Homo sapiens: one gene and its partners. The protein of the gene in region 4 purifies or fractionates together with the protein of the main gene of each other region. This does not show direct contact. Each region holds a gene or a part of one and is shown on either strand. Other genes may lie near its edges.

Region 1 (3,500 bases), on a different chromosome or scaffold from region 4:
AACCAAAACAAGCAAAATGAGGAGAAAAAACAATCTGGAAAAAACAAAGGTTATATAGGAAGAAAAAACTTTAAAAATATATTAATAGTCTCAGAGAGATAAGGGACAATATCACATTCATGAAAATAGAACAGAAGCTCTTGGATATTAATGAAAAGCAGAAATGAAAGACTCAATAGAAGGTTTAGGAAATAAAGTTGAGGAAAATTCCCAAAAAGTTCAGCAAAAAAAAATGATAGGAGGAAAAAGATGATAAAAGTAGAAAACCCAGTGAAAACAAAAAGCATTCCAAGAAACAGAAAATATCATTGAAGAAAACGTCCTACATCTAAAGCAAAGGAGTTTCCAGGCTGAGAATACCATCTGAGTTCCCCACACAACACAACTAGGTACTTTACCATCAAATCGCAGAATACTAAAGACAAAGATCTCACAAGTTTCCAGAGAGGAATAACAAATCACATCACATCCAGGCAGGAAAGAGAAAGATAATGCAACAAGGGACGCTAGAAACAATGGAGCAATACCTTTAAAATTCTACTTGAGAATCATTTGTAACCTAGAATTCTATACCTGGCCAATCAATTCTGAAGGTAGAATGAAAGCATTTTTAGATACATAAGCTCTCAAAAATTTATCTCCCATATATTCTTTTGTTTGTTTTTGAGATGATGTCTCACTCTGTCACCAGGCTGGAGTGCAGTGGCCCAATCTCAGCTCACTGGAACCTCTGCCTCCTGGGTTCAAGTAATTCTCCTGCCTCAGTCTCCCGAGTAGCTGGGACTACAGGTGCGTGCCACCACGCCCAGTTAATTTTTGTATTTTTAGTAGAGACGGGGTTTCACCATGGTGGCCAGGGTGCTCTCGATCTCTTAACCTCATGATTCGCCCACCTCAGCCTCCCAAAGTGCTGGGATTGCAGGCATGAGCCACGGCGCCTGGCCGTATTTTTTTTTTATATTAAGAAGCTGCTTAACTATACATTTCACTAAAATAAGATAATGAATTTTTTAAAAGAGGACAACAAGAGATGGAGTAAAAAGGAGATCTAACTCAAGAGAAACGGGGAAACCAGCTTCAGAATGATGGTGAAAGAATCCCAGTATGACAGCTACACATAAAAAACTGCATATCCCAGAGTTCTAGGATAATACCTGACAACTAGTGATTTCAAGAAAAGCAAAACATTATATAAAAAGGAAAAGTAATCATACATTATCATAAGATACAGCTATAAGCAGCATTCAGATAGTAAAAATAAGGTAAAGACTAACATACCTAACAAAAGTTACTATATATTATAACTACATTGGAAGGACAGGAGGATGGGAAATGTTCCTCTGTGGAGTGCAGAGACAGGGGAGAGTTTAAGGTTAAAATAAAGTGAAATCCTCATCTTTCATAGCAGGATATCAATAGATAATCATAAAATCCAAAAATCAATCGTGAAAAAAATATTCTATCTTGAAATCTGGAAGCAAATTTCAAAAGAATCAGATTTTTAAAAGTCAAAAGAAGTGTCCTCTATGAGCAGTTAATGTTAAGGAGACAGGAATACACAATGAACAGTTATTTTCATAACGAGTTTTACAGTTATTTGACTCCTTAAACTATGTGCATGTATAACTGTGATAATTTTTTAAACATTTTAATTACAGGGACAAAAAAAGTAAGAAAATAAACTTCCTATTATAATTTCAACAAAAGGGGAAAAAAGATCTCACGAGAGTAAGTTCCATTAATTCCAGACTGTGTCAAACATCTCTGAAGTTCTTCAGCATCCACTTCACCATCCTGTTTAAAAATAATTATGACCTAATTTAATGTGCAGTTGTATAAAAGCATATTAAAATGTCAATTGACTGTTCTAGGCCAATCAAGACATATGCATTCTTTGAAACATTACTCTATAATTAACTACAAAATTCTAGAGATAATTACTGACAACAAAGGCATATTACAAAATATCATACCACAGAAATAATTTCTTCCACTTCTGAAGAATAGCACAATTACCCTGTTCTATAATGGTTCAAGACAATCTCATAAGAGTCATTGTACTTCTATTTTAAACAGTTAGAAAAACAGTTAAACAGTTAGAAAAATGCCTAAAATGTGTTCAGAAAAGTCTCGAAAACATCCCCACTCATGCTGTTTTGGGAGGAGATTATTTATAAATAATACTGAAGCTTTAACTGGAAGGGGAAAATATATTTTCCCCCACCATTACCCCTAGCAAAATTCTAGAGTCCCCCTGTATCTTGCTGCTATTCTTCTGATTACTGCCCAAACAAGTCTTGCCTGAACTTACTACAGAAAATAAAGTTTTAAAATGCAAACAAGAAATCACAATGGAAATGAAATAGGTTGAGTATTCTCATTATGATTTAGTACCTCATCCTGTTTTTGACAAAAATAAGTAATTCCTTTGGAACCATCACAAACATTGGCACAAATGCAAAATGTAGCTATGATGAAGGATCAAGGAGGCAAATTTAAAACCTACTCTTCATAAGAGATCCAAGAAACAACAAAACAAAAAACTTTTCTAAACTACTTCTAAGAAATATTATTAACACTCACATTCTAATGGATTTTTGGCAAAAGAACCCCTTACAAAACTGCAGCTGTTCTAATAGAAATTACAAAATACTAAGCAGCATTCTTCCCTTAACTGAATTAGGTAGCATTAGCGGTAGAAAGCTGAATGTCCTAATTAAATTACAAGAGCATCAGGTAGAGAATTAACAAAAATCAATTGCCCTTCGTTAGGCAGCAAGATTTTAAAATGATATCCAACTTCAAGTCCTATTTGTTCAGTTACTCAATTTGAGTCTCCACTTACTTATCTATAATACAAAGGTAGCTGTGTCATGCCCACATCACAGTTGCTGTGTGGAAAAGTAGAAGCAGTGTGCATACAAAAGTTAAAGTTGTTGGTATTACTGTGATGCATGTGTCTGTATGTATGAAGACAGAAACCAGAATTTCCCCAAATTAATTGATGATTTAATCCTTACTGTTTAGAATACTTCATCCTATAAATAAGAACACTGCAGAAACCTTTAATCAGGTGTTTTTCATAGAGCATTATTAATTATGAGGCCCATCAAAAAAGGATATGGCTGTAGATGTAAGTTCAGTAGTTGGGTTCCAGGAGCAGTATACCTAAGTCAGATGTTGCACCTGATCCCTCAAAGCTAGGTAGAACTCAATATATGAAAAAATACAGTCTAAATATTTAGACTAAAAATTGAAAATGGGATAGTTAATTCATCCATACGAAACATTTATCAAATGTTTATATATTCCTAATATCTACCTGTCAAGTAGGGAAAATATGACCAGAACCCTGTCTTTATGGAGTTTATTTATTCAAAAGCACAAGACTGGGAAATTTAAGGAAAGTATCAAATAGTTCAAACATAGCGAATTTATTGCTGACAATTAAAATGCTGAAATAGTTCAGCAGTCAAAAAGAGTTTCCAAATATATGTCCA
Region 2 (3,320 bases), on a different chromosome or scaffold from region 4:
ACTCTTAGTAATCCCAAACCCCAGAAGCAGTCTCATTTCCCGGAAACATTGGGGCCACCTTCAGCCTCATCTCCAGAGTCACCAGTTCTAGCTGCTTCCCCAGAACCTTGGGGACCATCCCCAGCTGCATCTCCAGAATCTCGGAAGTCAGCCCGGACTACCTCCCCTGAGCCAAGGAAGCCATCCCCTTCAGAGTCTCCTGAACCTTGGAAGCCGTTCCCTGCTGTCTCCCCAGAGCCTAGGAGACCAGCCCCCGCTGTGTCACCAGGCTCTTGGAAACCAGGGCCACCTGGGTCCCCTAGGCCTTGGAAATCCAATCCTTCAGCATCATCAGGACCTTGGAAGCCAGCTAAACCTGCTCCATCTGTGTCTCCTGGACCTTGGAAACCAATTCCTTCTGTATCTCCTGGACCTTGGAAACCAACTCCATCTGTGTCTTCTGCATCCTGGAAATCTTCATCAGTCTCACCCAGCTCCTGGAAGTCTCCCCCTGCATCTCCTGAGTCATGGAAGTCTGGCCCACCAGAACTCCGAAAGACAGCTCCCACGTTGTCTCCTGAACATTGGAAGGCAGTTCCCCCAGTGTCTCCAGAGCTTCGCAAACCCGGCCCACCACTATCCCCAGAGATCCGTAGTCCAGCAGGATCTCCAGAGCTCAGAAAACCCTCAGGGTCACCAGATCTTTGGAAGCTTTCTCCTGATCAGCGGAAAACTTCTCCTGCTTCACTTGATTTCCCTGAGTCCCAGAAAAGTTCCCGTGGTGGTTCTCCTGATCTCTGGAAGTCTTCCTTTTTTATTGAGCCTCAGAAACCTGTCTTCCCTGAGACCCGAAAACCAGGTCCTTCTGGGCCATCTGAGTCCCCCAAAGCAGCCTCAGATATCTGGAAGCCTGTTCTCTCTATCGATACTGAGCCTAGAAAACCTGCCCTGTTTCCCGAGCCTGCCAAAACAGCCCCTCCTGCTTCTCCAGAAGCACGCAAACGTGCCCTTTTTCCAGAGCCCCGGAAGCATGCCCTTTTCCCTGAACTCCCCAAATCTGCTCTATTCTCAGAATCACAGAAGGCTGTTGAGCTTGGTGATGAACTACAAATAGATGCCATAGATGATCAAAAATGTGATATTTTGGTTCAGGAAGAACTTCTAGCTTCACCTAAGAAACTCTTAGAAGATACTTTATTTCCTTCCTCAAAGAAGCTCAAGAAAGACAACCAAGAGAGCTCAGACGCTGAGCTTAGTAGTAGTGAGTACATAAAAACAGATTTGGATGCGATGGATATTAAGGGCCAGGAATCAAGCAGTGATCAAGAGCAGGTTGATGTGGAATCCATTGATTTTAGCAAAGAGAACAAAATGGACATGACTAGTCCAGAGCAGTCTAGAAATGTGCTACAGTTTACTGAAGAAAAAGAAGCTTTTATCTCTGAAGAGGAGATTGCAAAATACATGAAGCGTGGAAAAGGAAAGTATTATTGCAAAATTTGTTGCTGTCGTGCTATGAAAAAAGGTGCTGTTTTGCATCATTTGGTTAATAAGCATAATGTTCATAGCCCTTACAAATGCACAATCTGTGGAAAGGCTTTTCTTTTGGAATCTCTCCTTAAAAATCATGTAGCAGCCCATGGGCAAAGTTTACTTAAATGTCCACGTTGTAATTTTGAATCAAATTTCCCAAGAGGTTTTAAGAAACATTTAACTCATTGTCAAAGCCGGCATAATGAAGAGGCAAATAAAAAGCTAATGGAAGCTCTTGAACCGCCACTGGAGGAGCAGCAAATTTGATAACACAGTGTGAATATTTGTTCTACAAAGGTGTTTGTTGGAACCATTCTTTGTAAGTATAGCTTATCAGATAGCATAGTTGGATCAGTAGATGACATGTATGGTGTACCGTGTTTCACTGTCTCAGTTGTGTTACTAAGAATGAGCATTTGATCATTTTTTTCTGGTCTCTGTCTATGTGACTATCTTGTAAGTCAATAAATTTCTGTATAGTCCAGATGGATTAAACTTCTCATTTCTTTTAAATATGTATGAATAATAATACAAGGAAGTAGGCATTCCATTTAATAATCAAGAGCAAGTTGTACTCAAAGCATTCAGTTAAAGTGTATCTGTGTGTGGAACTAATTTCAGACAATAGAAAATATTAGTTGAAATGTTTAAGAATTAGGCATGAAAAATAAATTTGAGAAATTTTGTTTCCTTACATGTATTTTTAAATCATAAGAGTTATTTTCTATCTGATGTAAAATTAGTTTATAAATCTTAATCAGCTTCTAGATGTTTATTAGCTTTTATGTCATGAAATGTTGGAGTCTCAGGGTTGCTGATTTTCTGCTAATGGGAAAAATTGACTAAGTCTTTAAAATAGTTTGCAGCCTTCTCCCACAGGAGACAAGTGAAAGATAAGTGTGATTTTAGATCTTTCTTGTCCATAGTTGTTTTCAGTGGAGTCTTCCATTCTGTATCTTACCCTAAGATCTGGTTCTTCCCTCCCCATCCCCACCCCCCACCCACCGCCTGCCAGCTCACACTAATAGATGATTCTTAATTGCCAAATGTGTTAGAGTTTGTATATCCTACTCCTGGGCCTTACATGTCGCCTGTTGGGGCTTAAGACCAGGTTGATAAGTAGGAACTGAAAGTCTTCCAGATTCACAGTAGAAAATTTTATAGACATTTCTGTTAAAGAAATATATCGATTTTATGTTTTTCAATTATGTTACTGTAAATACCTTGTACCTGTTCATGGATTATTTTATTCTAAAATATTTTGTCAAATGTGTATCAACCAAATTAAAAAGAAAGGTTTTCATGTCAGCAACATCTTCATGTGTGTTTTCTTTTGTGTAGTTTTCATTGTATGATATACAGATCCATTATTTCCATGTTTTCAACATAGTTTTCTTATCTGGAGCAGCATTTTCTTAGCTGTGTTTTCTCCAAGTTCTGTGGTCAAGTAAGTTAGGGGAATGCGTGTATAGGGAGGACTCTGTGTCAAAAACCTCATCCTTTCATATGAAAGGTTTTTTAATTCCAGTGGTTGCCTATCCTGCCTGCCTCTAAACAGTGTGAGGCATTTAATCTCAAAGCATTCTGATGTGTAGCCAGGATTGAGATGCTGTACTGGGTTTATTTTAGCTATTCCCAGACATTTTTTTAACAAGGAACAGTTTTGTCCTAGTTCCCCACCCGCTGGCTTCCCTATTAATATGCCCGTTGGGATAGCTTAACAATATTTAGTAATATGGTTTGGCTCTGTGTCCACACTCAAATCTCTCTCTTTTTATTTTTGTTTTTTATTTTGAGACCGATCCTTG
Region 3 (3,089 bases), on a different chromosome or scaffold from region 4:
TTTCTCCTCTGTGCTGGGAAATTTTTTAGAGACTGGCATGTTTGAAACGATTGTAAGTGGCTTTACCAGTTTGTCCTGACAGATGTCATTTGGGTTTTTTCCCCCAGTGTGACACCATTGTCCCATTCTCTGAGTAGAAACTTGGAAAAATTAGTGATAATGCATAGTATGTTCATCACAGTGCTCATTTCTCCCCCTCAAAAATTGGGCTTATGAGTGTTTCTGTTTCCAAGGATGCTTGTGTGGTGAGCCCAGCAGATCTTTTTGTTGCTTCTCATTGCCATCCGCTTTCTCTTTGCTGGATTGATTGGGCTGGGATTAAGTCTGTCAAATAGTCACTGAAAGCTGACCCCTCAGGGAGCCTCGGGCACACTGTCAGTGTTGTGGCTGTACCATATGGATGGGGTTTGTCTGTAGCGCCCCGTCTCCTGGCTTTGTTAAGTTAGTGCCTGACGCACATGTTGGATCTTGTTTAACAGACACCCTGTAGACCTTGAATCTGCAGAAAGCAGCTCCGAGCCCCAGACCAGCTCTCAGGATGACTTTGTAAGTACTTTGGATAAGTCTTTCAGCTTGGGGGTTGCAGGTGAATTGTTAATAACACATGCTGCCTTATAAACTGAAGTTTGGACTGGGCACGGTGGCTCACGCCTGTAATCCCAGCACCTTGGGAGGCCAAGGCAGGCGGATCACCTGAAGTCAGGAATTCAAGACTAGCCTGGCCAACATGGTGAAACCCTGTTTCTACAAAAATACAAATAATAGCCAGGTATGATGGTGGGTGCCTGTAGTCCGTGCTACTCAGGAGGCTGAGGTGGGAGAATAGCTTGAACCCAGGAGGTGGAGGTTGCAGTGAGCTGAGATGGCGCCATTGCACTCCAGCCTGGGCAACAGAGCAAGACTCTGTCTCAAAAAAAAAAAAAGAAAGAAAACCATGTGCTGCGCGTGGTGGCTCACGCCTGTGATCCCAGCACTTTGGGAGGCTGAGGCAGGCAGATCACCTGAAGTCAGGAGTTCAAGACCAGCCTGCCCAACATAGTGAAACCCAGTCTCTACTAAAAATACAAAAACTAGCTGGGTGTGGTCATGCAGGCATGTAATCCCAGCTACTCAGGAGGCTGAGGCAGGAGAATCACTTGAACCCGGGAGGCAGAGGTGGCAATGAGCCGAAATTGTACCACTGCCCTCCACCCTGTGTGACAGAGTGAGACTCTGTCTCAAGAGAAAAGAAAACCGTTTTTAAATGTATCAGTTTAAATACTGTCTCCTGTCCTGAGACAGCCACTATTTGTGGTTTTGTCTAGGCTTTTACAATTCTTTCTGTGCTTATAAACTATGTACATGGCCAGGCACAGTGACTAGTGACTCCTTCCTGTAATCCCAGCACAATGGGATGTGTGCACATCTAAACGTCAGTGTCTTGTAAATGGTACATGTGGTTTCTCTTTGCAGTGTTATTATTAAAATCTGTCTCAGTTGCACGTGAAGTGTACACCTTGCTGTGCATTACATCACATGATTTACCACATAAGGAGTGGGGTGTAGGAAGGGGCCCCTGTTTTCAGGGTGAGATGAATGTCAACCGAGCCATGCTTCTGTTTTCCAGGATGTGTACTCTGGCACACCCACCAAGGTGAGACACATGGACAGTCAAGTGGAGGATGAGTTTGATTTGGAAGCTTGTTTAACTGAACCCTTGAGAGACTTCTCAGCCATGAGCTAACTGCCCCCTGGCGGCCAGGAAGAGAAACAGCTCCTCCCCGACTAGGTGGAAGGCTGGCCAGGCACCAAGCATGTGTGTGCACTTGTACCTGGTGGTTTCTCTGTTAGCAGTCCATTAGCTCATGCTGAATTATTTTTGCCTTACTTTCTTAAGAAACATTAATTTTATGTATAGTGAGTATATTTTGCATGTTTTAAATTGTAAATGGAGCTAAGTCCAAGAAAGTACTTGAAGCTCTCTTCCAGCGAGCTTAATTGCGTAATCCCTGTTGTCCTCCAGGGTAAGCTGACACGTCTACATAACTGGTTTTCCACAGGCATCTTCAGTTATTGCTTGTCAGGTGGACTGTTTTGGATTTAACCATGTAATCCATGGGACCAATTGAGAGTCAGCTACTTTTATAGGCATCAAAGTATTCTCAGACACCTTTAATATCTTTATGGAAACTTAATTTTTGGCCTTTTATCAATATGTCATAACAGCATTCTGAAGTCAGACATTGTTAAATTGAGCTATTAAACTAATGAGTTTTATGTAAGTTATATGGTCTTAATTTGGTACTTGTAAATAGCACTAGTTAGACTCTTTAGAATACTCCAAGAGTTAGGGCAGCAGAGTGGAGCGATTTAGAAAGAACATTTTAAAACAATCAGTTAATTTACCATGTAAAATTGCTGTAAATGATAATGTGTACAGATTTTCTGTTCAAATATTCAATTGTAAACTTCTTGTTAAGACTGTTACGTTTCTATTGCTTTTGTATGGGATATTGCAAAAATAAAAAGGAAAGAACCCTCTTTCACTGACTGGGGCTGTTGCCAGGTGGGCCAGCTGCCGTGAGAGCTGACATGTTTGGAGGGTCAGAATTGTGTCTGCCTTTCTTGTGTCTGAAGCAAGTGGCACTCAGTGAGTGGCGCTGGGTAAAGGGCCTTCTTTATTTTTTTAATTTTATTTTTTGAGAGTTTCGCTCTTGTTGCCCAGGCTGGAGTGCAATGGTGCAATCATGGCCCACTACAACCTCTGTCTCCCGGGTTCAAGCGATTCTTCTGCCTCAGCCTCCCAAGTAGCTGAAATTACAGGTATGTGCCACCACACGCAGCTAATTTTGTATTTTTAGTAGAGACAGGATTTCTCCATGCTGGTCAGGCTGGTCTCGATCTCCCGACCTCAAGTGATCTGCCTGCCTCGGCCTCCCAACGTGCTGGGATTACAGGTTTGAGCCACTGCGTGTGGCCGGGGGCCTTCTTTAATAGGTGTCACATGTCACATTTGGTCTGATGCTTATTCATCAGCACTGGCATGACAGCCTTCCCTGTCTCTTGGGAGAGACCCTGCAGCAGGATAATCATCAGTCTGAGGGTGCCCT
Region 4 (3,500 bases):
AAGCCTTCATCCCAGCCAGAGGGGCGCTGTCCCCGACACAGGACCCTCCAACCTGTTGGGTGGGACAGAGGGAGCTGCCCTTCCCCCCAAACCTGGTCCAGAACCTCCCTATGGGAGGCAGCAGGAGGCCCAGGCACCCCCGCCCCAGGAGTGGCTCTGTCCATCCGGCGTCTTTCACACATTCTTTCTTTCTCTGTCTCTCCTCCTCTCCTCCCACATCCTTCCTGTAGAGCTACTTGGTAAGTCAAATGTCGGTCCCTCCAGCTGCTCCTCCCGTCCTTGTCGCATTTGTCTGTCTCCCCCAGCTCAGGGCCATTGGAAGGAACCTCTCCAGGCCAAGGAGAAGCGAGGAAGGCGGTCGGTCCACGAGGGAGGGGCCTGGGGCACAGTCCCCCTGGGGCCCCCGGGGTCCCTGGCCAGGGATGAGTCCCGGGCCACTGCTGGGTCAGTCTGCCAGGCCAGGAGGGGTTGGCCAGGGCGGGATGGGGGCCACAGGCCCTGGCTGCCCCGCCCCCACCAGGCTGGCCTGCGTCCTTACTTGTCACCTCCTCACCTGCCATCTCATCATCTCCTCTGCATCATCCTCTCGCCTCTCTCTTTCTTGCTGCTTCTTGTGTCGCTGTTGCTGTGTGCTCTGCTCCCTGAGCTGAGTGGGGACCCACACTGAGACCCCTTCCCTGCCTCCAAGGCCCAGCCCTAGCTCTCCTGGCCCCCGCCCCCTGTGGCCTGGCCTACAGCTGAGCCCCACACTCTCTCTTGTCCCGCTTCTGCCCCACCTCCCTGGACCTTGTGAGGTGAGGGGCGCCATCCCGGGTCAGTGAGGGTACCCCAGGTGGAGGCCAGCGAGTCTCCGTGTTGGCAGAGCTCCTGGGCGCCAAGAGCCTCCCCCGGAGATGCCCCAATCCAGCGTGGCTTTGCAGCTTTGGCCTCTTTCTTGTGTGTGTGTCTGTCCTCTCTGCCTGCTTTGGTGGGACTAGCCCTTCCACAAGCCCCAGAGTCCTCACTGCCCTCCGCAGTCCCCTGGCCCCAGGGCAACACCCAGCCCAACGGCCGAGAGATGCCACCACCAGGGTCTGAGCCCATTTGTGGGTGTGGCAAGCCAGGCTGGCATCCCCAGCAAGGCCTCTCCTCCCCACCCCTCCAGGGAAAGGAGACCTGCAGCCCCAGCTGGACAGTGCCCTGCAGGACGTCAACGACATGTACCTGCTGCTGGAGGAGACGGAGAAGCAGGCCGTGCGCCGGGCGCTGATCGAGGAGCGGGGCCGCTTCTGCACCTTCATCACCTTCCTGCAGCCTGTGGTGGTGGGACTCCTGGGGACTCAGACCCCAGAGGGGTGGGCTGGGCCCAGGGTTGACCTTCTGACCTCCAAGAAGGGTCACTTCTCAGCAGTCCCTGGCTGGGGGCATCAAGGCCACATGCTCCTGGCCCAAAGGCAGGTCTCATAGCTCACCATGCACTGATTTGGTCTGGAGAGACCATCATGCCAGCCCTCTGGGCTGTGTGGGCCCCACCTGCACCAGCCCCGAGCAGCATTGGTTAGCGAGGAGGGGTGAGAGAGGAGAGGCCCGACAAGGGCTGCTGCTTCTCCAGGGGCGCTGGGCAGGCGGGCAGGTGGGCGATAGGGCCAGCAGGTCTGACTCGCTGCTTCCTCAGAATGGAGAGCTGACCATGCTGGGAGAGATCACCCACCTGCAGGGCATCATCGACGACTTGGTGGTGCTGACAGCAGAACCCCACAAACTGCCTCCCGCCAGCGAGCAGGTGCGGGAGCCCTCTGGCCAAGGGCCAGGGCCAGGGGCAGGGAGGAGATGGGCTGCCCTAGGTTGGGAACAGTAAAGGGGAAAAGAGGATGGCATTTGGGGGAGGCAGCTAGGGGCATAAGACCAGACCCCTTCTGACACCCACTGCAGGCCATCCCGGAGCACCTGCCCAGGTCGGGGAGGGTATGCCCTGGCCAGCAGCGTTCTCAGACTCAGAGTAGATGGGTGAAGTCCTGGATCCATGGAGTCAGGCCCAGAGTCTGCCTGCCCTGCTCCATGTGGGCAGACCTCCTGCCGAACCTGGAGACGCCCCACCTCCCTTCATGGCCAGAAACCCCATCCCCTCCCCTAGACCCAGGCGTACCTGGCCACCCCACCCCAGCCCTGCTGCCACTGCACTCAGACCAGTCCTGTCCCACAGCCTGCGGGCAGCACGCTCCAGAGGCACTTGTTGCATGCCCAGCATCTGCCACGTTATCTCAGGGAATCTTCCACTCTAAGACAGGAACAGGAGTAAACAAACTCAGGGAGGCGCAGGAGCAACCTGCACCCCATGGTGTCAGGGTCACTCTCGCCCAGCCCAGGCTGGGCTCGGAATCTCTACTCAGTGCATGTTAGCTGAAGGGGCTCCGAGAAGGCTGTGTCCTCTGGTGTCTCCCTGCTCCCCACATTAGGAGGAGCCTGGGGGAGGGGGCTTCAGATTTCTGGGTCTTCTCCTGGGATGTGGTTCACAATTAGAGAGTGGGGGGGGGCCTCTGGCCCTACTAGCTCTGAGGAGCTGCCTCCAGTGACCCCCATCCATGTCCCTGTCCAGGTAATCAAAGACCTAAAGGGCTCGGACTACAGCTGGTCCTACCAGACCCCACCCTCATCACCCAGCAGCTCCAGCTCCCGGAAGTCCAGCATGTGCAGGTCAGTGGGGGTGGGGTTCCCAGGGGTGTGGGGGGCGGTATCCCAAGAGGAAGTGGGGATGTTCCCAGCAAAATTGCATCAGAAATTGCTTCAGGGCCTCAAAATTCACAACTTTTACACCATCCGAGGAATTTGCATATGTAGAGGGAAAATGTGCCCTGTCATCCCAAGACTGCTACTGGCACAGGCATTTGTTGGCAGAATAGGAAGCAGGGGCAGTAGCAGCTTCATTTATGGAGCATCCACTATGTGCCAGGTGCTGTGCTAAGTGCTTTATGCATTTTTTCTCATTGAATCCTAACACTGCTGTATCAGGAATGGTGTCATCTCCATTTTACAGAAGGGGAAACTGACACATGAAGTCCCAGCATTTAACCACTGGACTCTGCCAGGCCTAGCACCGTGTGGGGTCATAGTAAGAGTCAAAGATCAGGGAGAGATGGGAAGGCTTCTAGAAACAAGTGTTGGGGCCATAAGGTATAGGACACTCCAGCCTGGCTGGCTCCTAAGAGCTGGTTCCCATGGAGGCAGCTGCCGCATTTGGAGCCTTGGCCCAGGCTAGCCCCGGGAGCCTCACACAGCTGGGGAGAGGCCAAGGATCTCGCAGTCACTAGCCAGGCTCAGGATCAGGGGCCTTTCCTTGGCTGGGCACTGGGGCTGGGTTTGGAGGAGACATTGATGGTTCAAGCTTCCTTGGGTGGGGAGGACAGTAAGCACAGAGTGAAGTGCTGGTGGGGGCCCCCCTTTGCCAGGCACCCCTCTCCCCAGAATCACTGGCTGGACATCCAGAGCTTGGGAGAAGCCAGGCACAGCAATCAGCTACTACC
Region 5 (3,500 bases), on a different chromosome or scaffold from region 4:
GCCCTCTACCCCTTTTAATCTGGCTAGTCTCAATATTTAAGTCTCTGCTTGGGCATGTTTTCTAGAAAAGCCATCCCTGACATGCTTTATTTTAATTGTTTTTAAACCCTAATGCCTAGCATGTATTTAGCAGGACTCAATAAGAAATTTCTGAGTAAAATGTGAGTAAGATGATGTGCAAGACTGTCCTCTGCAGTCTTGGAGCAGACGGGACAGACATGTGGAGGAATAATGTAGAGTTCAGGTGGTAAAGATGCAGTAGAAAAATCAGTGAAGTACTAAGGCAGCCTCAAGGAAGGAGGTACCTGTTTATCTGGGGAAAGACATGCAGAATCAAGGAAGACGTTCTCATAGCATTGTTTTAAAAGATAAAAATAAGGATAAGTGTGGTGGCTCACACCTCTAATCCCAGCATTTTGGGAGGCTGGAGCAGGCAGATCACAAGGTCAAAAGATCAGGACCATCATGGCCAATGGTGAAACCCCGTCTCTACTAAAAACACGAAAATTAGCAGGGCATGATGGTGCATGCCTGTAATCCCAGCTTCTCCGGAGACTGAGACAGGAGAATCGCTTGAACCAGGGAGTGTCAGAGGTTGCAGTGAGCTGAGATTGCGCCACTGCACTCCAGCCTGGTGACAGAGCAAGACCCTGGCTCAAAAAAAAAAAAAGAAAGAAAAATGAAAATAAATATGTCTGAATCGTGGAGGGAAACATTTTAGATATTGGGAAGAGATTGTACACTAATAAAGGTGTCAGTAGTAATTTTTGAAATCATTTGTAAGGTACTATTGTTGCAGAAAACAGGAGGCAGGAGAGACCAAGTGGGTGAAACAGGAGGATTTCATTTAGGTTCGCACCAGCTCAGCGGATTTGCATCCGAAAGCTGAGCCCTGAACAAAGACAGGGCTTGGCTTATGTAGGCAAGCTTACAGAAGCAGAACAAAGGCAGTTAATCATATAGTGACAGTTTTGCAACCTCAGCGTAGCTTATGACCTTGCAGCTGCATTGAAGGACAACAGGAACTTGCAAATAATATGCATTTGTAAAAACAGCTCTGAGTGAATGCTGAGGGGAAGGGGAGACAGTAAAGGATTTTGTTTTCTTAACCTTGCTGTGGGATGTCTGGAGCCCATACCTGTGGGCTCTGGCTTCTCAGGCAGGGTCACCATGACCTTTCCTGGGCCCTGCTTGTTACTATCCTTAGAGTCAGACTAGCTAAGTGCGGGAAAACTTGTTTCTCTTTAAAACTAAATTTCCTTTTCTTTACATTTACTGCTTCACTATTAGGAAGTGGAGAACAACATACTGTGTTACCTTATATGTTTCTACTGTATTTTAAAGTTGTGTTTCTGGTGGTTTTGTTCATTTATGTTGGGTGGATGAATTTGTGAGTGAATGACATCAGGTGTCTCCCCAAGTGGTTTGTTGAAGTTTGGGAGAATTATTTCCTAAATAACTATTTCATGAAAAACTAAACACTCAATTTATGAAATAAAATGTTGTCTTAAATCTATTTTTATAAAGGCAATAGTTTTTAACTGTTCTAAGTGGTTCATTTTAACTGAATATATGGATTTCTCAACAGAACAAGACTTAAAGCTGACATCAGAGGAAGAGTCACAAAGGTTCAAAGGCAGTGAAAATAGCCAGCCAGAGGCATGGGAAATTTTAAATTTAAATTTTTGATTTAATGTTGTTTTCTTTGCTTTAATAATATTAGATAGTCCAAATGAAATTACCTTTCAGACTAGGTTTTGAGAATCAATAGATTTTTTAAAGAATTTTTTAATAGATTGTTAAAATTTATTTTAATAAATTCAGTAATCTCATTAACAGAAGAATGGATTCTAATTTAACATTTGATATTTAACTTAAAAAACATAACCACTATAAAATTTAAAATACTCTTATTTTATAATATTTTTATTTAAAATATTCTCATCTGCCTTTTTGATTAGCTTATAGCTAATCTTTCCTTTTGGAATAGAGGCAAAAACAAATTTCAGAACTTTGTTCTTTTATTTTTACAACACCCGAACATGATGAAGAAGGTACATCAATTATTGGATTATGTTATTAAGCAATAGAATTATGAACAATGTAACTCTGATGGTCCCTGAGCTGGATTCATGGTTAAGGAGTAATCATGGCCAGTGATTGAAAATCTGCAGTTTTATATTGTCAGTCACTGATACCAAGGTTAAAAATATATTCTGCCTTATGGTCTCTCATTGACCTCAGCGTTTCTGTTCAGGGAGGGAACCAGGTCATAAAAGCAACACAGCTGCCTATTACAAGAATCATATCTTGCAGAATGGAACCTTTGGTGTTAGTGCACAAACACAATAACATTCTAATTTATTTCAGTTGCAGAAAATTAGTACATATTATTAAAAAAATCTTTATCCACTGTAATTAGTACACATTAGAATATATTAGAACTGGACTTAAGCAGATAATCTGGATACATAACACTATCATATGACAGTATATAATCTCAATTAAAATTTGAGAAATTGCATCTCTTTCTGTTTGGTGTTGATTTCGGCTCCTAATAATTTAAATGGTGCCTACAATCCAGTTAGGAATCTTTTAGAAAAGCACTTCAGTGCACTGTAGGGGCTCACTAGTTAGGGTTTCATGAGGTAAACTCTTTTCAAGTGAGGAAGATTTTGGAACACTACAAATCATCTGCTGATTCATTTTTGGTAGATTTAACACATAACAAGTTTAGTCCAAACAAATGGTGACCAAGTTAAGTTTGCTGGTTCACGTTTTTTTTCTTCGTTGGGCTAAGGTGAATTATTTTTCACATGTTAGTCAGAAGCCAGTAATGTGGCAGTAGCTAAACATAGATTAAAAAGTTAATTCTTAATTTTAATTATTATTTATTTAACAGTTAAATTTTAATTTTAATTATTTTCTAATTTTTCATCGTCCATACTTCATTAGTTAAGAATAAAATTTTTTTAAAACATGCGCTCCAAAAGAGGAGACATCACAGAAACACAACAAGCAAATTAACCTTCTGTTTTTGCCTCTGCAGAAAATGTCTCAAGAACCAGAAATAAATAAGGATGGTGATAGAGAGGTATACCTTCATATTCAAATGTTTCTGTTGAATTAGATTTTTACATTATGTTGTTTAACAAAATGTAGTAAGTGTAGGCATACATGATCCTATCATGTAAGTAGCATAAATCATGAGTGAAAAAGTTAATATTTAACTCAGAAAGAATTCTGTACTTTGAGTTTTCAAGAGATACAAAGCCTAGAGATATTCTTTGATTATTATGGAACAATCCTGAATGGTGCCATAAAATGCTAGGTAATGCCACTTTAGGAGCTTTGGACCAATCATTTTATCTTTCTTGGTTTTAGTCTGATTATCAATAGATAATGTGGCTAAAGAAGATAGCTTCTTATTCTGTGTATCTTCCAGCTAGAAAATTGTATGGCTATTCAATGTGAAATTTGGGGAGCATCTCATTTTCTGG
Region 6 (4,018 bases), on a different chromosome or scaffold from region 4:
CAGGGTGGGCGGGGTGGGGGGGTTCCGCCTGTGCTGGCTCATACAGGGAATCCGGGTTGGGGGTTGGTCTGTGCCAGCTCTGTCTTCCTGGGCATGGGCTGGGCCAGAGCTAAGGTCTCCTGAGAGCCAGCACTGCCTGGCAGGAGACTGTCCCGGAGACTTTTTAATAATTTATTATTATTAGGGTTTTTTTGTGTTTTTTTTTTTTGTTTTTTTTTTTAAGACGGAGTCTTGCTCTGTCGCCCAGGCTGGAGTGCAGTGGCGCGATCTCGACTTACTACAACCTCCGCCTCCTGGCTTCAAGTGATCCTCCCACCTCAGCCTCCTCAGTAGCTGGAATTACAGGCATGTGCCCCCATGCCCGGCTAATTTTTGTATTTTTAGTAGAGACGGAGTTTCGCCATGTTAGCCAAGCTGGTCTGGAACTCCTGACCTCAAGTGATCCGCCCGCCTCGGCCTTCCAAAGTGCTGGGATTGCAGGCGTGAGCCACTCGGATTTTTATTTTTATTTATTTATTTATTTTTAGAGAGAGGCTCTTGCTCTGCTGCCCAGGCTGGAGCGTCATGTTGTGATGATAACTCACTGCAGCTTCGACCTCTTGGGCTCAACGGATCCTCCCCCTTCGGCCTCAGCCTCCCAAGTAGCTAGAACTCCAGGTGCAAGCTACCGCACCCAGTAAGAATCCTATTCTCTTTTGGACTGACAAACTCCTACTCATCCAACAAAGCCCCAGCTCCAATGGCCCCTTCTCTGAGGAACCTGCCCTGGTTCCCTGGTCCACCTCCCAGCTAGTAGAGTTCCCTGGGAAGGGGTTAGACGCCTCTAAGTGGCAGAGAGGGGCCCTCATTCCTGCCCCAAAGGTAGCCTTCTCCCCTCCCCTTTCTGGCAGAAGAGAAGTCTGAGATGGAGAAAGAGTGAGAGCCGCCCACGAGCTCTGAGCAGAGAGCCCGCAGGAGTGCCACGTCCCGGCGGCCTCGGCCCCTCCCTGCCTCAGTTTCCCGTGGCATCAAAGGGGGCGAGGGGCCCCTCCAGGCCTCTGGTGACGGGGGTGCTGTGCCCAGGCGGGGGTCCGGGGGCGACCGAGGGGGCTCAGGAAGTCCGCGGCCGCAGGAATTCGGCGCCTCCAGGCCTTATAAGGACATTTGCGCTCCGGGCCAATCAGCGGCGGGGGCGTGGCGCGCGGAGCCCGGCGCGTCCCAACCCCGCGCCAGCCCGGCGGTCCCGTCCCGTCCCGTCCTGTGCGGCCCCGTCCCGCCGCCCGCCCGCCAGCCATGAGCTCCACGCAGTTCAACAAGGGCCCCTCGTACGGGCTGTCGGCCGAGGTCAAGAACCGGGTGAGTGAGGGGCGCCCCTTGTCCCCCCGACAGCGCGGCCGTCGCACGCTCCGACCGGTGCAGGAGCCCCCAGGCGCCCCCGGCACCTCCCGGGCAGGGAGCTTGGAGACCCGGGGCGGACGGGCCCTTGTTCTCCCTGACGCCTGGTGGGGGGATGTCTGCGGGCACCCCCTGAGGCTCCCGCGAATCTTGGGGAGCACCCAGGTCTGAGATCTGGGGGACGAGTGACCCATTCCCCCCCCCAACATCTAGGGGTAGTTGGGTCTGACTTCGTCCCCTCGCCATGGCCCCAGGACCCCCACGTGTGAAGCCCCTGGCGCCCACTCAACCTTCGAGAAGGTCCGTTCAAGGTCCGACAACGCTCTGGGGGTCTGGGGGGGACCCCAGCAACCCCGTCATCTCCTGGCCACACTTCTGCTTTTGGGGCCTCTTAGCTTTGGGAGGGGAAGGGGCATGGCCGAGTGGTTTTTGAGAAGTGTTACCCCCCCACAAACAGGAATTTCCTGGCCTCTGGGACACCTTGGGGGTGTCTTGGGGGGAGGGGCGGTAGCCGCTTTGCACGGTCTTTGTCTCCCATCTGACTAATTTAAACGGATAACAAAGAGGTTCTCTGAAGGTGGCCCTGAGATATGTGGGGTTTTGCAGCCTCGAAAGAAGAGCTGGGGCCCGGCAGGGCGCGGGGGCTCACGCCCGTAATCCCAGCACTTTGGGGGGCGGAGCTGGGTGGATGGCTTGAGCCCAGCGAGTTCGAGACCAGTCTGGGCAACATGGCGAAACCCCATCTCTATAATTAAAAACAAGCCAGGGCTAGGGGAGACACTTTTTAAGAGAGCACTTGTGGTTCTAGCTCAGAGAGGACCAGACACTTCTGCAGGGTCACACAGCAGGGTCCTGGACAGGATTCCCAGGGAAAGTGGGGGGCGGGGGTTGTGATGCGAGACCCACGGACAGGACCGGGACCTGACCCTCCAGGACCTTCCAGCTGGAGGGGGGTGTCGTCCCCGCCCACCCCCTCCCCCGACGCCCACTGGGCACCTGGGAAGGTGTCCTTACAGCTGACTTCTGCAGGGGAAACTGCCTCTGCACGCTCTGAGGGCACCGGCCCTGCCAGCCCCAACAGCCACCTGCCCGGCGGCACTCCAGGGCCGGCAGACTGGAGGGAGAATTCCTGCTTCCCCGCTGTGAGCCCCTGCAAGCCTTCAGACCAGCTCTTGGCCAAAAAGGGAGGCTGAGGCTTGGGGTGGTCAAGGCCTGAGCCAGGGTCCCCAGCCCGGGGCTCACGACTCCTCCTTCAAGGGGCCATCTGCACCCTGCATTCATAGAGCCCCCCGTGCAGTGGGGTGGGCACCCTGCCGCACCCTGCATACAGCCGGCTAAGGGCACCGGTGTCCACAGGGACCCAGAGACGTCGTTCCAGCTGCCCAGGGCCACACAGCCCACAAGTGACAGGGCCAAGACCGGAACCCAGTACCTGCTGGGCCTGCGGAAGTGGGAGCGGGCACAGGAGGGTGGGGCGGCTTCCGGAGACGGGGTGGGGTGGGGTGGGGGCAGGTTGATACCTGCCCTGGCGGGGGTGAGGACAGAGGCTGGAAGAGCCGCTTAGCAGGCTCCCCGCGCAACCCTCAGTCTGTCCGTTTGGAGGGTGGGCGAGGCGTCGGCCAGCTTGCCAGGGTCACGGAAGGGTCGCCTCCCAATTAGAAACCAGCTTCCCCCTGGCTTCCCGCTCACACCCGCTTTACCGGCTGCTTGAAACAGCCAGAGACCCGCCCCCCGCCCCGCTTCCCCGTGGCTCAGTTGACTCCCGGCTGGACGGCACGGAGGCAGCTCGGATCCACAGTGTCTGCGGCCTTGCATCCCGGCTTGGGGGTCCGGACCCGCTGGGAACAGCTGGTTCAGATTTAGCCGGGGAGGCAGCGCGCATTCCTGGCAGTTTGTGGTGAACAGGAATGTGCTGGAAGGCCGGCGGCCGGGCAGCGGGGGGGCGGGGGTGGGGGAGGACGGCAGCGGCTGGGGGTGGGGCCAGGGGACCTGGGCCCCTGAGCCGGCAGAGACGCGGCGCAGCTGGGCAAGGCAGGGCTGTGTACCCAGCAGCCACCGTTCTCATTCCTCGGGATCAAAGTTGCCGGCGGGGCGGGGCTGCCCCCGGGCGTGGAAAGCCAAGCTGGGTGGGCTGTGAGCTGGTACTGGGGGGCCTCCCCGCCTTTGCCTCCTCTGGGCTACGAGCTGTTTCCAGGCAGGTGCCAGGTCAGGGGACCCTAACCCAAATAATCCCAGGCAGGTCCAGGTCAGGGGACCCTATCCCAAATAATCCCAGGCAGGTCCAGCTCAGGGGACCCTAACCCAAATCATCCCAGGCAGGTCCAGCTCAGGGGACCCTAACCCAAATCATCCCAGGCAGGTCCAGCTCAGGGGACCCTAACCCAAATCATCCCAGGCAGGTCCAGCTCAGGGGACCCTACCCAAATCATTCCAGGCAGATCTAGCTCAGGGGACCCTAACCCAAATCATCCCAGGCAGGTCCAGCTCAGGGGACCCTAACCCAAATCATCCCAGGCAGGTCCAGCTCAGGGGACCCTAACCCAAATCATCCCAGGCAGGTCCAGGTCAGGGGACCCTACCCAAATCATCCCAGGCAGGTCTAGCTCAGGGGACCCTAACCCAAATCATCCCAGGCAGGTCCAGC
Region 7 (3,500 bases), on a different chromosome or scaffold from region 4:
ACAAAAACTTGTGCATGAATGTTCATAACAGCACTGTTCACAATAGCCAGAAGGTGGAAACATCCCAAATGTTTATCAACAGATGAATGGATAAATAGAATATGTTATATTCATACAATTGAACATTACTCAGCCATAAAAAGAAGTGAAATACATGCTACAACATGAATGAACCATGAATACATTATGCTAAGTGAAAGAAGTGAAACACAGAAAGCCACATTCCGTATGACTCCATTTATGTGAGATATCCAGAATGAGCAAATCCATAGAGATAGAAAGCAGATTAATAGTTGCTAGGGGCTAGGGGGAGGGGTAAATGGGAAGTGACTACTTAATGGTACAGGGTTGCCATTTGGAGTGGTGAGAAAGTTCTGGAACCAGATAGTGGTGGTGGTTGTACAATATTGTGAATGTATTTAATACCACTGAATTGTACACTTTAAAATTGTTAAAATGGCAAATTTTATGTGTATTTTACTACAATAAAAATGGAAAATAAACTTTATACATATATTCTGTTCATAATAGCAATTTTAACTTATCAAAGAAGAAAATTTTTTAAATTAAAAACATATAATGAGAGAAATGTGAGTCATTTATAATTACACCATTCTGAGAATAACTACTGTTAACATTTTGGAATATTTCTTTCCATTATCTTTTATATATTATACTAAGACTTTTTAAAATTTTTTTTCCATTCTTTATCTGTCTTTGTATCAATAAATCTGAATATTTGGTTACATAACAGATCATATTGAATATGCAATCACTATTTAAAAGATTGTGGGGAAGTCTTTATGGTTTATCTTTGTATATAAGTAAATTATATTTTGAATTTCCTTTTTGAGAAGTCAGTCTATATTATGAAAGTATATGCTTCACGAGAATTTTCACACTAATAGGTACAACTTTTCTTCCAAGAAAAAATATCCTATTCACCATAAGTATGCAATTTTAACCTGAAATGTGAAGTCCTGTGTATGTTTATGCCACAGGGGAAAACAAGGAGATTATTACAGAATTTTAATACAGAATGTTAAAGTTGAAGATAGATAATGAGCATGTTTTATACAAACAGAAGCTTCTAACGTAGCACTTTTCTGGTGGAAGTACAGTTTGAGAATTGACCCCCACTGGTTAAGTGTGTTACTGCAGTGGAATTCCTAATTAAAGGGATGAAAATGCCCAGATTAAAGCAGGAAGAGGGCAAAGTCTAGAAGTCCCAAAGCATAGAGGTAGATATCTTCGCTACCAAGACAGATATCCCTGTGGTCATGAGGATGAGGAACGTGACCACGATCAGTGGTAATAGCCACCCAGTTTTCAGATGATCAGGAAACAAATGAATTGCCACGCGTCTGGCTACCATCTTACTGTCTTTTTCATGCAAGGTTTTTAACTCGGTCTATTTGGGAACTTTCTTCTGATAACATGTCTCTAATTTTATAATGGAAGTTAGTAGGAAAGTAGGATTTACTTTAGACCTTGTTTTAGGAGCTAGAGTGCTTCTGTTTGATAATGTGAGGGATGTTTGACAAATGGTTTTACAAATGGCTGTAACTAATTTCAAGTCAATATTGAATTGACAGACTAATCAATAATGCTTCCATATGTTCTATTTCCTCAGAATAGTAATTATAACATTTAAAATAAGTGTTTATGGGTAGCCTCTGAAGGAATCTGGGCAGTCATTAAAAATAACAGCCATCCACAAAAGGCAGTAAGGACAAATTAGAGCAGTGGCCCCACCCTTCCAAGAATAACTGATCATTGCCCACATCATGATGTACTTATTGTCCTAGTAGGTATGAGAAGGATGAAGAGTGAATAATTTGAGGAAAAATTTCATTAGCTGATAAATTGGAATGTCTACCTGCAAGGCTAAAATGGTTGTTAAATGAGGAAAATTGCTCCCCTAGATAAATCTGACATGATATGCTTTGTGTTTGAACACGGAAACTCATCACCATTGTTCTGTGTTCTTCAGTTGACATCATTTTCTTAATTCTGAATGACAGGGTGATTGACAGACATGGTGCTTTGTAAAGAAAGAAAAACTCATGCAGCATGTTGGAGCCTGCCAAAATGACATAGCCTGGAACTTGTAGAGTTAAACTGTTTGGGAGCCATGTTTCCTTTTTAAAAATCTGAAAGGATATAAAACCAGACATTACAATGGACTGGAGCTTGACTTGAGGGGTGATTCTATGTGTGTCACCTCATAGGTGCTCATTTTCAGGATGATATAAATGAATAAACTTTTTGTTTGTAGAAGAATTCGTATAGCAAGTATGTTACCAGTGATTTTGTGGAAGCTAATGTAGCAATTTGCTGACAGAAGTCAAAATATTTTCTAAATTGTAATCAAGCGTCTTTTACTTCTGTGCTTTAGAGACAAGATCACTTGAAGGCATGAAGTAAAAATATTCTCTGTATTCTAAAGTAACTCCTTAGATCAGATTTCAAAAGATTAATGACATTTTCACAAACCATTAGTCACTTTCTCCTATATCTGGCTACCTGGATCACTGGTATCTCACTTTTTCTATACAGCTGTCACCTGGGCAATACATTGTGGTCCCAAGACAGACTGTTCCATTGGAGCACACAATACGTACATGGAATCAACCCATGCTGGGTGGGGCTGGCCAGCACAGTTATTGTATGATGCCAAAAATCTGTCCCTGGACTATAAAGCTATACCTCAGGCCCCTGATCTCACTCTGTCCCTAAAGTACCAAAGCATCTGTCATTGTATTTGAGCCTCGTTGGACTCCTGGTACTCAGAAAGCTGTGTTTCACTTTAAAAGCAACCTCCAAGGCACACCTCTTGAGTGATCACAGCTCAATTCTGACGTGTTCAGTTGCAGTTAATAATAGGGTGCTTTTGTAACAACCTTCGTGAGAGTAAACAGATGAGATGAATAAATTGGCTACTGTCATTATCTCCCACATATTTTAGAAGTTAATGTTCTTTTCACCCTCACTCCCCCCTTAAAGGTTTACATTTTTTAGCTCCTCTTAATGTGCCATTGAAAACAGAGTTCCCATTCATACACAGATGGTAAGCATGACTCATGAAGTCACCCAGCGAAATGACTTCTGGTTGTATATGTTATGTTTCCCCTCTTGGTTAGTTTTTCCCAACTATGATATACATCATGTTTTTTCTCTCTTCTAACTTAAAAAATATGAGCTTCATATATCCAGGAAAATGCTTTTCACAGTACATATTTTCCCAGGGACGTTGAGTTTTTTTATAAGATGTCACTATCATTAAGATTAGTCCTTTCTTGATGCTCTACTTTAAATGTTTTTTTTTTTTTTAAGTGCCGTGGAGTGTTGGGAAAGGAAGGCTTCAGGCTTCCTGGCCATCTAGAAAGAGTTTGCTGTGCATCAACAAGTCAATGTATAAGAAGCCTAGTGGGGAAGCAAGCTGTACAAAGTAAAGTAACTTCTTAGAAGGTGATTTAATGCATACAAATTTCCATTAG

The links.
Region 1: the proteins of MTSS2 (region 4) and GCA purify together in Homo sapiens (affinity purification with mass spectrometry; one large-scale study listed by BioGRID and IntAct). This does not show direct contact.
Region 2: the proteins of MTSS2 (region 4) and CHAMP1 purify together in Homo sapiens (affinity purification with mass spectrometry; one large-scale study listed by BioGRID and IntAct). This does not show direct contact.
Region 3: the proteins of MTSS2 (region 4) and SLBP purify together in Homo sapiens (affinity purification with mass spectrometry; one large-scale study listed by BioGRID and IntAct). This does not show direct contact.
Region 5: the proteins of MTSS2 (region 4) and POTEI purify together in Homo sapiens (affinity purification with mass spectrometry; one large-scale study listed by BioGRID and IntAct). This does not show direct contact.
Region 6: the proteins of MTSS2 (region 4) and CNN2 purify together in Homo sapiens (affinity purification with mass spectrometry; one large-scale study listed by BioGRID and IntAct). This does not show direct contact.
Region 7: the proteins of MTSS2 (region 4) and AMMECR1 purify together in Homo sapiens (affinity purification with mass spectrometry; one large-scale study listed by BioGRID and IntAct). This does not show direct contact.

What each region holds. Positions count from the first base shown.
Region 1 is NC_000002.12:162,350,632-162,354,131, reverse strand, and holds part of GCA (grancalcin), read right to left. Parts: intron 1,795-3,500; coding exon 1,725-1,794; intron 721-1,724; exon of another isoform or gene 399-720; intron 1-398. UniProt on the Homo sapiens protein: Calcium-binding protein that may play a role in the adhesion of neutrophils to fibronectin. May play a role in the formation of focal adhesions.
Region 2 is NC_000013.11:114,324,503-114,327,822, forward strand, and holds the end of CHAMP1 (chromosome alignment-maintaining phosphoprotein 1), read left to right. Parts: coding exon 1-1,779; 3' UTR 1,780-2,820; downstream 2,821-3,320. UniProt on the Homo sapiens protein: Required for proper alignment of chromosomes at metaphase and their accurate segregation during mitosis. Involved in the maintenance of spindle microtubules attachment to the kinetochore during sister chromatid biorientation.
Region 3 is NC_000004.12:1,692,231-1,695,319, reverse strand, and holds the end of SLBP (histone RNA hairpin-binding protein), read left to right. Parts: intron 1-479; coding exon 480-546; intron 547-1,606; coding exon 1,607-1,723; 3' UTR 1,724-2,589; downstream 2,590-3,089. UniProt on the Homo sapiens protein: RNA-binding protein involved in the histone pre-mRNA processing.
Region 4 is NC_000016.10:70,676,054-70,679,553, reverse strand, and holds part of MTSS2 (protein MTSS 2), read left to right. Parts: intron 1-230; coding exon 231-239; intron 240-311; exon of another isoform or gene 312-422; coding exon of another isoform or gene 423-444; intron 445-1,144; coding exon 1,145-1,302; intron 1,303-1,654; coding exon 1,655-1,762; intron 1,763-2,575; coding exon 2,576-2,673; intron 2,674-3,500. UniProt on the Homo sapiens protein: Involved in plasma membrane dynamics. Potentiated PDGF-mediated formation of membrane ruffles and lamellipodia in fibroblasts, acting via RAC1 activation. May function in actin bundling.
Region 5 is NC_000002.12:130,488,829-130,492,328, reverse strand, and holds part of POTEI (POTE ankyrin domain family member I), read left to right. Parts: intron 1-1,588; coding exon 1,589-1,659; intron 1,660-3,049; coding exon 3,050-3,094; intron 3,095-3,500.
Region 6 is NC_000019.10:1,025,390-1,029,407, forward strand, and holds the start of CNN2 (calponin-2), read left to right. Parts: upstream 1-1,218; 5' UTR 1,219-1,272; coding exon 1,273-1,335; intron 1,336-4,018. UniProt on the Homo sapiens protein: Thin filament-associated protein that is implicated in the regulation and modulation of smooth muscle contraction. It is capable of binding to actin, calmodulin and tropomyosin. The interaction of calponin with actin inhibits the actomyosin Mg-ATPase activity.
Region 7 is NC_000023.11:110,210,086-110,213,585, reverse strand, and holds part of AMMECR1 (nuclear protein AMMECR1), read left to right. Parts: intron 1-3,500.